2 separate regions of the Homo sapiens genome follow, and region 1 is linked to region 2. The links come from fine-mapping of genetic effects on gene expression. A gene starts in region 2. The other region holds a variant in brackets. All regions are shown on one strand. Distances are from middle to middle.

The links. PIP is the estimated chance that this variant, and not a neighbour inherited with it, causes the effect. A credible set is the group of variants that fine-mapping cannot tell apart.
Region 1: its variant is the best candidate, but not a certain one, in a credible set for the expression of ADGRE1 in whole blood (TOPMed, PIP 0.56).

The regions. Positions count from the first base shown.
Region 1 is chr19:6,928,210-6,933,209 of GRCh38, forward strand. ADGRE1 (adhesion G protein-coupled receptor E1) reads left to right here. Exons shown (of 21, transcript NM_001974.5): 17 at 1-2. The region is part of intron 1 of LOC105372256 (a long non-coding RNA gene); the gene reads right to left. Among named protein-coding and RNA genes, the nearest start is that of ADGRE1, 43 kb to the left of the region's middle. The variant A/G (reference allele first, on the strand shown) is at 2,590.
Region 2 is chr19:6,883,968-6,889,477 of GRCh38, forward strand. It overlaps ADGRE1 (adhesion G protein-coupled receptor E1), which reads left to right and starts at 3,612. Exons shown (of 21, transcript NM_001974.5): 1 at 3,612-3,672. The coding sequence starts at 3,642. RefSeq lists an enhancer at 3,606-3,665.

The DNA.
Region 1 (5,000 bases), 44 kb after region 2:
TGGTAAGCAAATACTACAACAGCCTGGCGAAGTGTGTTCTGAAGGAGGAGCAAGGAGACCTGCGAGATCTGGAATTTCCAGGGACGTGTGCAGCTGAGAGGGTCACTTATTCCCATCAAAAGTTCTCCTTTCCAGGCCGGGCGTGGTGGCTCACGCCTGTAATCCCAGCACTTTGGGAGGCTGAGGCGGGTGGATCACCTGAGGTCAGGAGTTCGAGAACAGTCTGGCCAACTTGGCGAAACCCCATCTCTGCTAAAAATACAAAAAATTAGCTGGGTGTGGTGGCGAGCACTTGTAATCCCAGCTACTTAGGAGGCTGAGGCAGGAGAATCGCTTGAATCCAGGAGACATGGAGGTTGCAGTGAGCCAAATTCATGCCACTGTACTCCAGCCTGGGCAACAGAGTGAAACTCCGTCTCAAAAAAAAAAAAATAAATAAATAAGTTATCGGCCAGGTTGCGGTGGCTCATGCCTGTTATCCCAGCACTTTGAGAGGCCCAGGATCACTTGAGGTCAGGAGTTCAAGACCAGCCTGACCAACATGGAGAAACCCCATCTCTACTAAAAATACAAAATTAGCTGGGTGTGTTGGCACATGCCTGTAATCCCAGCTACTCAGGAGGCTGAGGCAGGAGAGGAGAATTGCTTGAACCAGGGAGGCAGAGGTTGCGGTGAGCCGAGATTGCGCCATTGCACTCCAGCCTAGGCAACAAGAGCAAAACTCCATCTCAAAAAAAAAAAAAAAAAGTTCTCCCTTCCAATCCTTCATTCTTGAGATTTCGAAGTTACAGAGTAATTTCTTTGACTTGGGAATTTTGTTTTTCCTTCTGAAAGGCAAATACCCCTGGGAGGGACCATAATTGTATCCGTCTTGTGCACAGGTCCATGAGTCTCTCTGAAGCAGTGTCATTGTCTGGGGGTAATAATGCCTGAGGTTCGTTGCCTCATGCTAAGGAAATCAAGGACACAGACACACACAAGGAGTGAGTTTAAGAGCAGAGGTTTAATAGGCAAAAGAAAGAGAAAGGAGACTAGCTCTCTGTGTCTTGCAAGAGAGAGGGCCTCCTGAGTGGGACTTCTGGCCCGCAGCAAAGTGCAACAGATTTTAGACTGGCTTGAGGGGGCGGTGTCTGATTTACATAGGGCCCAAAGATTGGTTGGACCCAGTGTGACATTTACGTAGAGCGCGAGGAAGCTGGCCACCCACCCTGATCTTTTATTATGCAAATGGGGTCTTTACTTGGCTGGCACCATGTTGTCTTCTCCTTACTGTCTACATGGTTTACAAAGAAAAGGGAAGACGGAGCTGCCATTTTTTTTTTCTTTTTTTTTAGACGGAGTCTCACTCTGTCACCCACGCTGGAGTGCAGTGGTGCAATCTCGGCTCACTGCAACCTCTGCCTCCTGGGTTCAAGCAATTATTCTGCCTCAGCCTCCCGAATAGCTGGGATTACAGGCACGCACCACCACACCCGGCAATTTTGTATTTTTAATAGAGATGGGTTTTCACCACGTTGGCCAAGCTGGTCTCAAACTCCTGACCTCACGTAGTTTGCCTGCCTCGGCCTCCCCAAGTGCTGGGATTACAGGCATATGCCACTATGACCAGCTAATTTTTGTACTTTTAGTAGAGATGGGGTTTCACCACGTTGACCAGGCTCCTAACCTCAGTTAATCCACCTGCCTCAGCCTCCCAAAGTGCTGGGATTTCAAGCGTGAGTCTCTGCGCCCAGCCAGAGCTGCCATTTTGAACATGCCTATTCCCCAGGTAACCGCTTTCCTATTGGCACAACTGCCAGCATTCACCCATGCAAGCTTCTAGCTTGCCTTTCTATGTCTATAGCTCGATTCTACCGGCTGCTCTCCATTAGAAAAGAAAATGATTTGGGAGCTGCTTTTCATTAAAAGGAAAACCTTACCGAGGACTTCCTTACCCTCACTATCTGCCTAAATAAATCTTTTTTAAATCCTATGTCATCTCCTAGGCACAGATGTTGAATGAAAGAAAAAGTAAAAAGAAATTAGGAGGAATTGTGGGGGAAGGAGTGAGATGACAGAGGGAAATGGTGGATCGAGGCAAAGGGAGGCCAGGGAATGTTAAACACCCATCTCTTTGCCTCCCAACCTCCATCCAGACTTGACAGCCCTGCCAGATGATGATTCTTCTGACTCTCACTCATGGTGGCTCATTCCCTTATGTCTTTTGTCATATTTTTCGAGGATTAAATTTTTTTTTATTTTTAATTTTTGTGGGCACAAAGTAAGTGTATATATTTATGGGGTATATGAAATATTTTCATACAGGCACAGAATACATAATAATCACATCAGAGTCAACGAGGTATCTGTCCCCTCAAGCATTTGTCCTTTGTGTTACACACAATCCAATTATGTTCTTCTGGTTTTTGTTTTGTTTTATTGTTTGGTTTATTTTTATTTTTATTTTGAGACAGAGTCTTGCTCTGTCACCCAGGCTGCAGTGCAATGGCATGATCTCAGCTCATTGCAGTCTCTGCCTCCTGGGTTCAAGCGATTCTCCTGCCTCAGCCTCCCGAGTAGCTGGGATTACAGGTGTGCGCCACCACGCCC[A/G]GCTAATTTTTTGTATTTTTAGTAGAGACGGGATTTCGCCATGTTTTCCAGGCTGGTCTCGAATTCATGACCTCAGGTGACCCACCCGCCTCGACCTCCCAAAGTGCTGGGATTACAGGCATGAGCCACTGTGTCCAGCCTCTCCTGGTTATTTTTAAATCTACAATGCAATTATTATTAACTATAGTCACCCTGTTTTGCTAACAAATACTAGATCTTATTCATTCTTTCTATTTTTTTGTACCCATTAACCATCCCCTCTTCCCTGTTCCCCACCCACCCCTTCACTATCCTTCCCAGCTTCTGGTAACTGCTGTTCTACTCTCTAGCTCCATGAGTTCACCTGTTTTAAATGTTTAGCTCCCACAAAGAACTGAGAACATGTGAAATGTGTCTTTCTGTGCCTAGTTTCATTTGTAATGTTTACTTGACTGATCTAAGTCTTGGGAATGCTTGAAATTATATTCCTCCACAGAGGTTTTGTGCTGATGTCTATCAGATTTTTTTTAATGGGGGGCATGTATTAATTTTCAGGGGTCACCGTAATAAGCTACTGCATGCTGGGTGGCTTAGAACAACAGAGACTTGTTGTTTCACAGTTCTGGAGGCTTGAAGCCTGAAATCAAGGTATTGGCAGGGCCACGCTCCCCATGACAACACGAGGGAGGGTCTGTTCCAGACCCCTCTCCAACAAATTTTCCCATTTGTAAGATCACCGGCCAGGTGCAGTGGCTCATGCCTGTAATCCCAGCATTTTGGGAGGCCGAGGCGGGTGGATCACCTGAAGTCAGGAGTTCGAGACCAGCCTGGCCAACATGGCAAAACCCTGTCTCTACTGAAAAATACAAAAAATGAGCCAGGCGTGGTGGCAGGCACCAATAGTCCCAGCCTCGGGAGGCTGAGGCACAAGAATAACTTGACCCCTGGAGGGAGAGGTTGCAGTGAGCCGAGATAACATCACTGCACTCCAGCCTGGGTGACAGAGGGAGACTGTCTCAAAAAAAAGAAAAAAAAAAAGGAACACTAGTCATATTTCAGTCAGATTAGGGTCTGCCCTAATGAGTTCATCTTAACTTGATTATTTCTGTAAAGATTCTATTTCCAAATAAGGTCTTGGGGCGCCTGGCCCCAACAGACAGCCTCTTAAGCTCGTTAAGAAAATAAAAACAAATCTTCAGAGGCCATAAATTAGACAGCAGTAATGAACCAGAATGCTGTAGCTGCCCTAAGGGTATTTCCTAAAATCAAGAATCTAAAACCTTGGAGATTGAATGGTCATTTGTGGAGTTGGATGGGCAAGCCCTAGGGTCTGAAGAAGGTGTAGAGTCCACCAAATAAAATAAAGACCCCATTCTTATTGAAAGGGTGGACTAGAAAATAAAATTCTGGGCCGGGCGTGGTGGTTTATGCCTGTAATCCCAGCACTTTGGGAGGCTGAGGCAGGCGGATCACGAGGTCAGGAGATCGAGACCATCCTGGCTAACATGGTGAAACCCCGTCTCCACTAAAAATACAAAAAATCAGCCAGGCGTGGTGGTGCACGCCTGTAGTCCCAGCTACTCAGGAGGCTGAGGCAGGAGAATGGCGTGAACCTGGGCGGTGGAGCTTGCAGTGAGCCGAGATGGCGCCACTGCCCTCCAGCCTGGGTGACAGAGCAAGACTTGGTCTCAAAAAATAAAATAAAAATAAATAAATAAATAAATTTAAAAGGCTATCTGTTGGGGTTCCTCCAGCATTTTTGGTGTTTTGTAGCGAGAGGGATTTTCAGAGTGAGATTCCTAAAACTCAAAGTTGATCCTGATGCTCTTCTGTGTGAAACTGTTCTATAGCTTCTCCATTGCACTCAGGGTGATGTCCACTCCCTGAGCCTGACACCTCAGATCCTTCACTGCCTGGCCCTACCCAACTTCCCTAGGGTCCCTTTCTGGCTTTTTCCTGCCTGCTCGGCCCTCTGGCTGTACCAGCCAACTTTCTACTTCCTTGAAATGCCAAGTTCTCCCCTCTAGACCTCTCTCATGGAGGTGGTGGTGATGATGAACAAACCATATGTGTGAGATGCTTAGTACAATGCCAGGCATTGCCAAGAGTGCAGTAAATATTAGGTATGAACAATCATGGAAATAATAATTATGATGATGTTGGCCAGACATGGTGGCTCATGCCTGTAATCCCAGCACTTTGGGAGGCCAAGGCAGGCAGATCACTTCGGGTCAGGAGTCTGAGACCAGCCCGGCCAACATGGTGAAACCCCATCTCTACTGAAAATACAAAATTTAGCCAGGTGTGGTGGCCCGCGCCTGTAATCCCAGCTACTCAGGAGGCTGAGGCAGGAGAATCGCTTGAACCTGGGAGACAGAGGTTACTGTGAGCCGAGGTTGCGCCATTGCACTCCAGCCTGGGAGACAAGAGCG
Region 2 (5,510 bases):
AAAATTGGATTCATCAGATAAATTTTCAGCCAACAACTGTTTGAGAATGATAGTAACATCATGCGTAGGAATGCTACACTTTTCTAGGATCTGACATTTTCAGCAATCAAGAATTACTGTATTTTGTAAAATATACTATAGTATATAGTAAAAAATACCATATTTTGTAAAATATAGTAATCTGGAAATATCCCTACTAAAAACAGAACACTATAAATAGAATCATGTCTTTTGTTTTCAAAGTTGATACACTAGAGCAATGCAAAAATAATAATAAAGGTGAGATATTTCACGGCAAAGTTATCTCTGGGTAAATGCTGCAGCCACAAGCGCCACCAGCTAGTATTCTTGGGGCCAACGGGGAAAGAATGAAGGCACAAACAGAAAGCCACTGATGAATCTGGCTAGACGCGGTGTCTCAGGCCTGTAATCCCAACACTTTGGGAGGCCAAGGTGGGAGGATCACCTGAGGTCGGGAGTTCCAGACCAGCCTGGCCAACATGGTGAAACCTCGTCTCTACTAAAAATACAAAAGTTAGCTGGGCATGGTAATACACGCCTGTAATCCCAGAAACTACTCGGGAGGCGGAGGTTGCAGTAAGCCAAGATCACGCCACTGCACTCCAGCCTGGGTGACAGAGCGAGAGTCCATCTCAGAAAAAAAAATAAAATAAAATAAAAAAAGAAAGCCATTGGTGAATCTTTGTTCCAGTGACAATAACTCCAAAGCTGGTAGTTTGCTTTGCAAAGAACAAAAGGGGAAGGCAAAAACACGTGGAGCTTTTCTTTCTAAGAATTCGGGGATGTTCTATGCACCTCCTTTGTACCTTGTGACAGCTGCTATCAGTGGCTGCCCACACCCATAACCTAACAACACATTAATATGCCCTAGCTTAACGCTGATACGGGAGCTAGAAAGAAGTTATTTAGGCAGAGAGTGAGGGCAAGAGAGTCCTCGGTAAGGTTTGCCTTTTAATAAAAAGCAGCCCCCAAATCATTTATTTTATTTTATTTTTTTTTTTTTGAGACAGAGTCTTGCTCTGTCGCTCAGGCTGGAGTACAGCGGCACAATCTCGGCTCACTGCAAGCTCCGCCTCCCGGATTCAAGCAATTCTCCTGCCTCAGCCTCCCGAGTAGCTGGGATTACAGGCGCATGCCACCATGCCCGGCTAATTTTTGTATTTTTAGTGGAGACGGGGTTTCACCATGTTGGTCAGGCTGGTCTCAAACTCCTGACCTTGTGATCCACCCGCCTCGGCCTCCCAAAGCGCTGGAATTACAGGCGTGAGCCACCGCGCCCGGCCAAATAATTTCTTTTCTAAAAAAGAGCAGTCTGAAAAATCAGCCGGCAGACATAGAAAAGCAAGCTGGAAGCTTGCTCGGGTGAATGCCGGCAGCTGTGCCAATGGGAATAGGCTACCTGGGTGCCAGGCGTGTTCAACATGCAGGCTTGCTCCATGTTCCCTTTTCTTTATCAACCACGTGTACGGTAAAGGAACAGGCAACATGGTCCTGGCCAGGTAGAGACCCCATCTGCATAATAAAATATTAGGGTGGGCAGCCAGCTTCTTTGTACTCTATGTAAACGGCACACCTGGTCCAACTAATCTTTGGGCCCTTATGTAAATCAGATATCACCACCTAAAGCTCATCTATAAAACCCCGTGCATTTCACCATGAAACTGGAAGACCCACTTGGGAGCCCCCTCTCTTTGCAGGAGAGAGAGCTTTTCTCTTTCTCTCGCCTATTAAATTTCTTTTCTTTCTTTCTTTTTTTTTTTTTTTTTGAGATGGAGTCTTGCTCTGTCACCCAGGCTGGAGTTCAATGGCACAATCTCGGCTCACTGCAACCTCTGCTTCCCGGGTTCAAGCGATTCTCTTGCCTCAGCCTCCTGAGTAGCTGGAATTACAGGCATGAGCCACCACACCTGGCTAATTTTTGTATTTTTAGTAGAGATGGGGTTTCACTATGTTGCCCAGGCTGGTCTCAAACTCCTGATCTTAGGTGATCCACCCGTCTCAGCCTCCCAAAGTGCTGGGATTACAGGCATGAGCCACTGTGCTCGGCCTAAACCTCTGCTCTAAAAGTAATTTTTTGTGTGTCTGCATTTTATTTTATTTTATTTTATTTTATTTTATTTTATTTTATTTTATTTTATTTTAAGACAGAGTCCCACTCTGTTGCCTAGGCTGGAGTGCAGTGGCACGATCTCGGCTCACTGCAGCCTCCGCCTCCTGGGTTCAAGCAATTCTCTGCCTCAGCCTCCGGAGTAGCTGGGATTACAGGTGCCTAACACCATACCACACTGGCTGATTTTTTGTATTTTTAGTAAAGACGGGGTTTCCCCATCTTGGCCAGGCTGGTCTTGAACTCCTGACCTCGTAATCCACCCTCCTCAGTCTCCCAAAGTGCTGAGATTACAGGTGTGAGCCACGGTGCCCGGCCATGTCTGTATTTTCTATTTCCTTGGTGTGAGGCAATGAACCTCGGGTATTACCCCAGATGGATGACACTGCTTCAATATCTGCCAGTCACTACACTTTGTTATCAGTGGGATTACATCAACTGGAGCCCATTCTATCTGCTTGGAGGCCAGGCCTGAAGATTCAAGGGGTTGACACCCTCTAGGAGCAAGCCTCAAGTCAACCCATGACTGACAGTAGGTGGGATATAAATACCTCAGCTCCCTCACCCCTCGGTTGGAATAACTGAAGAGTATGTTCCATGCCGCTCCCCAGTCATCCCTGGGGAGGTTAAGTTCCACTTTCTCACCATGTAACTTATTTGAAGACACACCCAGTATTGGCTCTTTGCCTTTCCTGATTCACTTTCTCCTCCCCCAGCTGGTGCTTTCTGGGGCCACCTTCTTGATAAACTACTTTTGCTAGAATCCTTGTCTGAGGGTCTGCCCTTGTGAGACCCTAAGATGTTACCAGAGAGAGTTAGGAAGCTGGGAATGGGGTGGAAGTGTTGCTGTATAATCGTCAGACAGAGTTGAGATCTGAAGGAAAATAAGATGGTTAAAGCTCTTGACTCTGGAATCAGAGGGTCCTGGGTTCAAATCTCAAGTCTGAGAGATCTTGGACAAGTTATAACTCCTCTGCAAGTCTCAGTTTCCATTTTGTTGGTGAATAGAGGGAGGGAGGGGAATTCCTACTTTACAAGGTTAACATGATAATGAAATTACACTTTGTTGCCAATGTGCCTAGCACACTGCCTGGTACATGATGGTTGTGATGGCTGTCTTTATACGGGAGACTGGGAAGAGACCCTAAAGGCTGAGATTTGCTTCACTGGAGGCAGGAAGCGGAAGCTCCTTTATTGGGTGCAATGAAAGAAGGTGTTGAGAGATGGGAGATAGATGTTGATGGGAAAGAAAAAGGGAGAGACCATGGGAAGGAGAGAGAGAGAGAATGATATACATTAGGCAGATTAACTTCTCTTTATTGTGAAGAAAGGGGGAAATTAGGATTTTCTAGGCTGTCTTTTAGTTGCAGCAAGTCAGCAAAAAGGGCTATGATGACCAGGCAGCATTGAGCAACTCTGACTCCGCCTTCCCCTCTTCGCACACCTTCTGGTTACTGAAAACCCAGCGTTAGTAGAAAAGTTTCTTTTCTTTGAATGACAGAACTACAGCATAATGCGTGGCTTCAACCTGCTCCTCTTCTGGGGTGAGTGTGAGGCTGAATGGGGGGCTAGGGGAGGCCTGGATTGGAAATAGACTTCAGGAGAAATGGGAGGGCCATGGATGGTCCAGCCAAGAGATCATAAGTCCAGACTGGATGCTGCAAACACCTTCATTCAGGGAACCTTTGACAAAATTCCATAGCTCAGGGAAGTCCATCTGTTAGGATAGATTTTTCTCTATAGTCATTCATTTGACCTGAGCAAGTCCTGTGTGTCAGGTGCTGTTCTAGGCACTAGAGGATATAGCAGTGAGAAAAAAAGACTAAGTTCCTGCACTCTTGAGGCTGATATTCTAGTGGGTAGGAGCAGACAGGAAAGAAGGCACAGATGATCATAGCCCACTTAGCACTGCTGTAACTTCTTTAAACATAGAGTGTATCCAATTGTCACAACATTTCTATGACATTGGGTCATTATTAGTCCTATTTTGCAAATGAGAAAACTGAGGCAAAAGAGATAAAATAATTTTCCCAAGGCCACTTAGTCAATAAGGGGTAGAGGCAGGATTTCAAGCCAGACAGTCTGACTTCAGAGTCTGTAAGCTTTTCCACTATACTATGTTGCCCCAAAAAATAAGTAAACATAGGAATTTCAGGTAGTGATAAGTGCTATGAAAGAAGTTGTTATAGAATGTGGTCGGGAGTTATGTTGAAGGGAGAAGTCTGGGGTTGAGGAGGGGCAGTTCGAGCTGAGTCCTGAAGGATGAGATAGACCCTTCCTGTGCTCTTATTTCTCTTTCTTCAGGTGTCAGTTTGTCTCAGCCTTGTTTATCTTCTGTGTTTCTGGTTTTTCTTCTATGTCTTGTGTGTTTTGGTCATTGGATCAAATTTAAGAATGGAGGATATTGGGGACATATTCTAAGTAGCAAGTATGGGTTTCCTCTGCTGTTGAAGAGTGGATCTGAATACCCTATTTTACCAAGGAGGAAACTGAGGCACAAAGAGATTAAATAACTTCCTCAAGGCCACGCAATCATTAATTGGTGAAGCCAGATTTTTAAACCTAAGCACTTTGACTTCAGACTTTGTATGCCTAAACAGCATGCTGAATTACCTCTAAAATAATTAATGAATGAGTAGAAGAATTTTTGTTAGTAATAATAGATAGAATTTGGGAGTTTAGATCTGTGGGACTTGTTGACTGGCAGGCTACATTAGAAGAAATAGGTGGCCTGTGGACATCAAATGTAGGCATGCAGAGTTGTTATTTTGGGGTGTTGGCAATGGTATTAACCATTAACACTCCCTATTCTGCCCTGAAGATAATCAGCAAAGAGTTGTGATAATGATAGTGATGATAATGATCATGATGGTGGTGGTTATAATAGTGATGATGAAAATGGTGATGATGATGGTGATGGTGATGATGATGATGATGATAATGGTGATGATAGTGATAATGAAGATGATGGTGATGATGATGGTGTGATAATGACCATGAAGATGGTGATGATGGTGATGATGATAATGGTGATGATAGGGATAATGATGATGATGGTGGTGATGATGGTGTGATAATGACGATGAAGATGGTGATGTTGGTGATTATGGTGGTGATGATGATGATGGTGGTGATGGTGATAATGGTGATGGTGATGATGATAATGGTGATGATGGTGATAATAATGATGATGATGATGGTGATGATGAAGATGATGATGGTGATGATGATAGTGATAATGATGGCGATAATGATGATGGTGCAGGAGACCTAAATGCTGCAGGGCTGCATTGCCTTTAAACACTAAAAAATGGGCAGGGCGCAGTGGCTCACGCTTGTAATCCCAGCACTTTAGGAGGCTGAGGCAGGCAGATCATGAGGT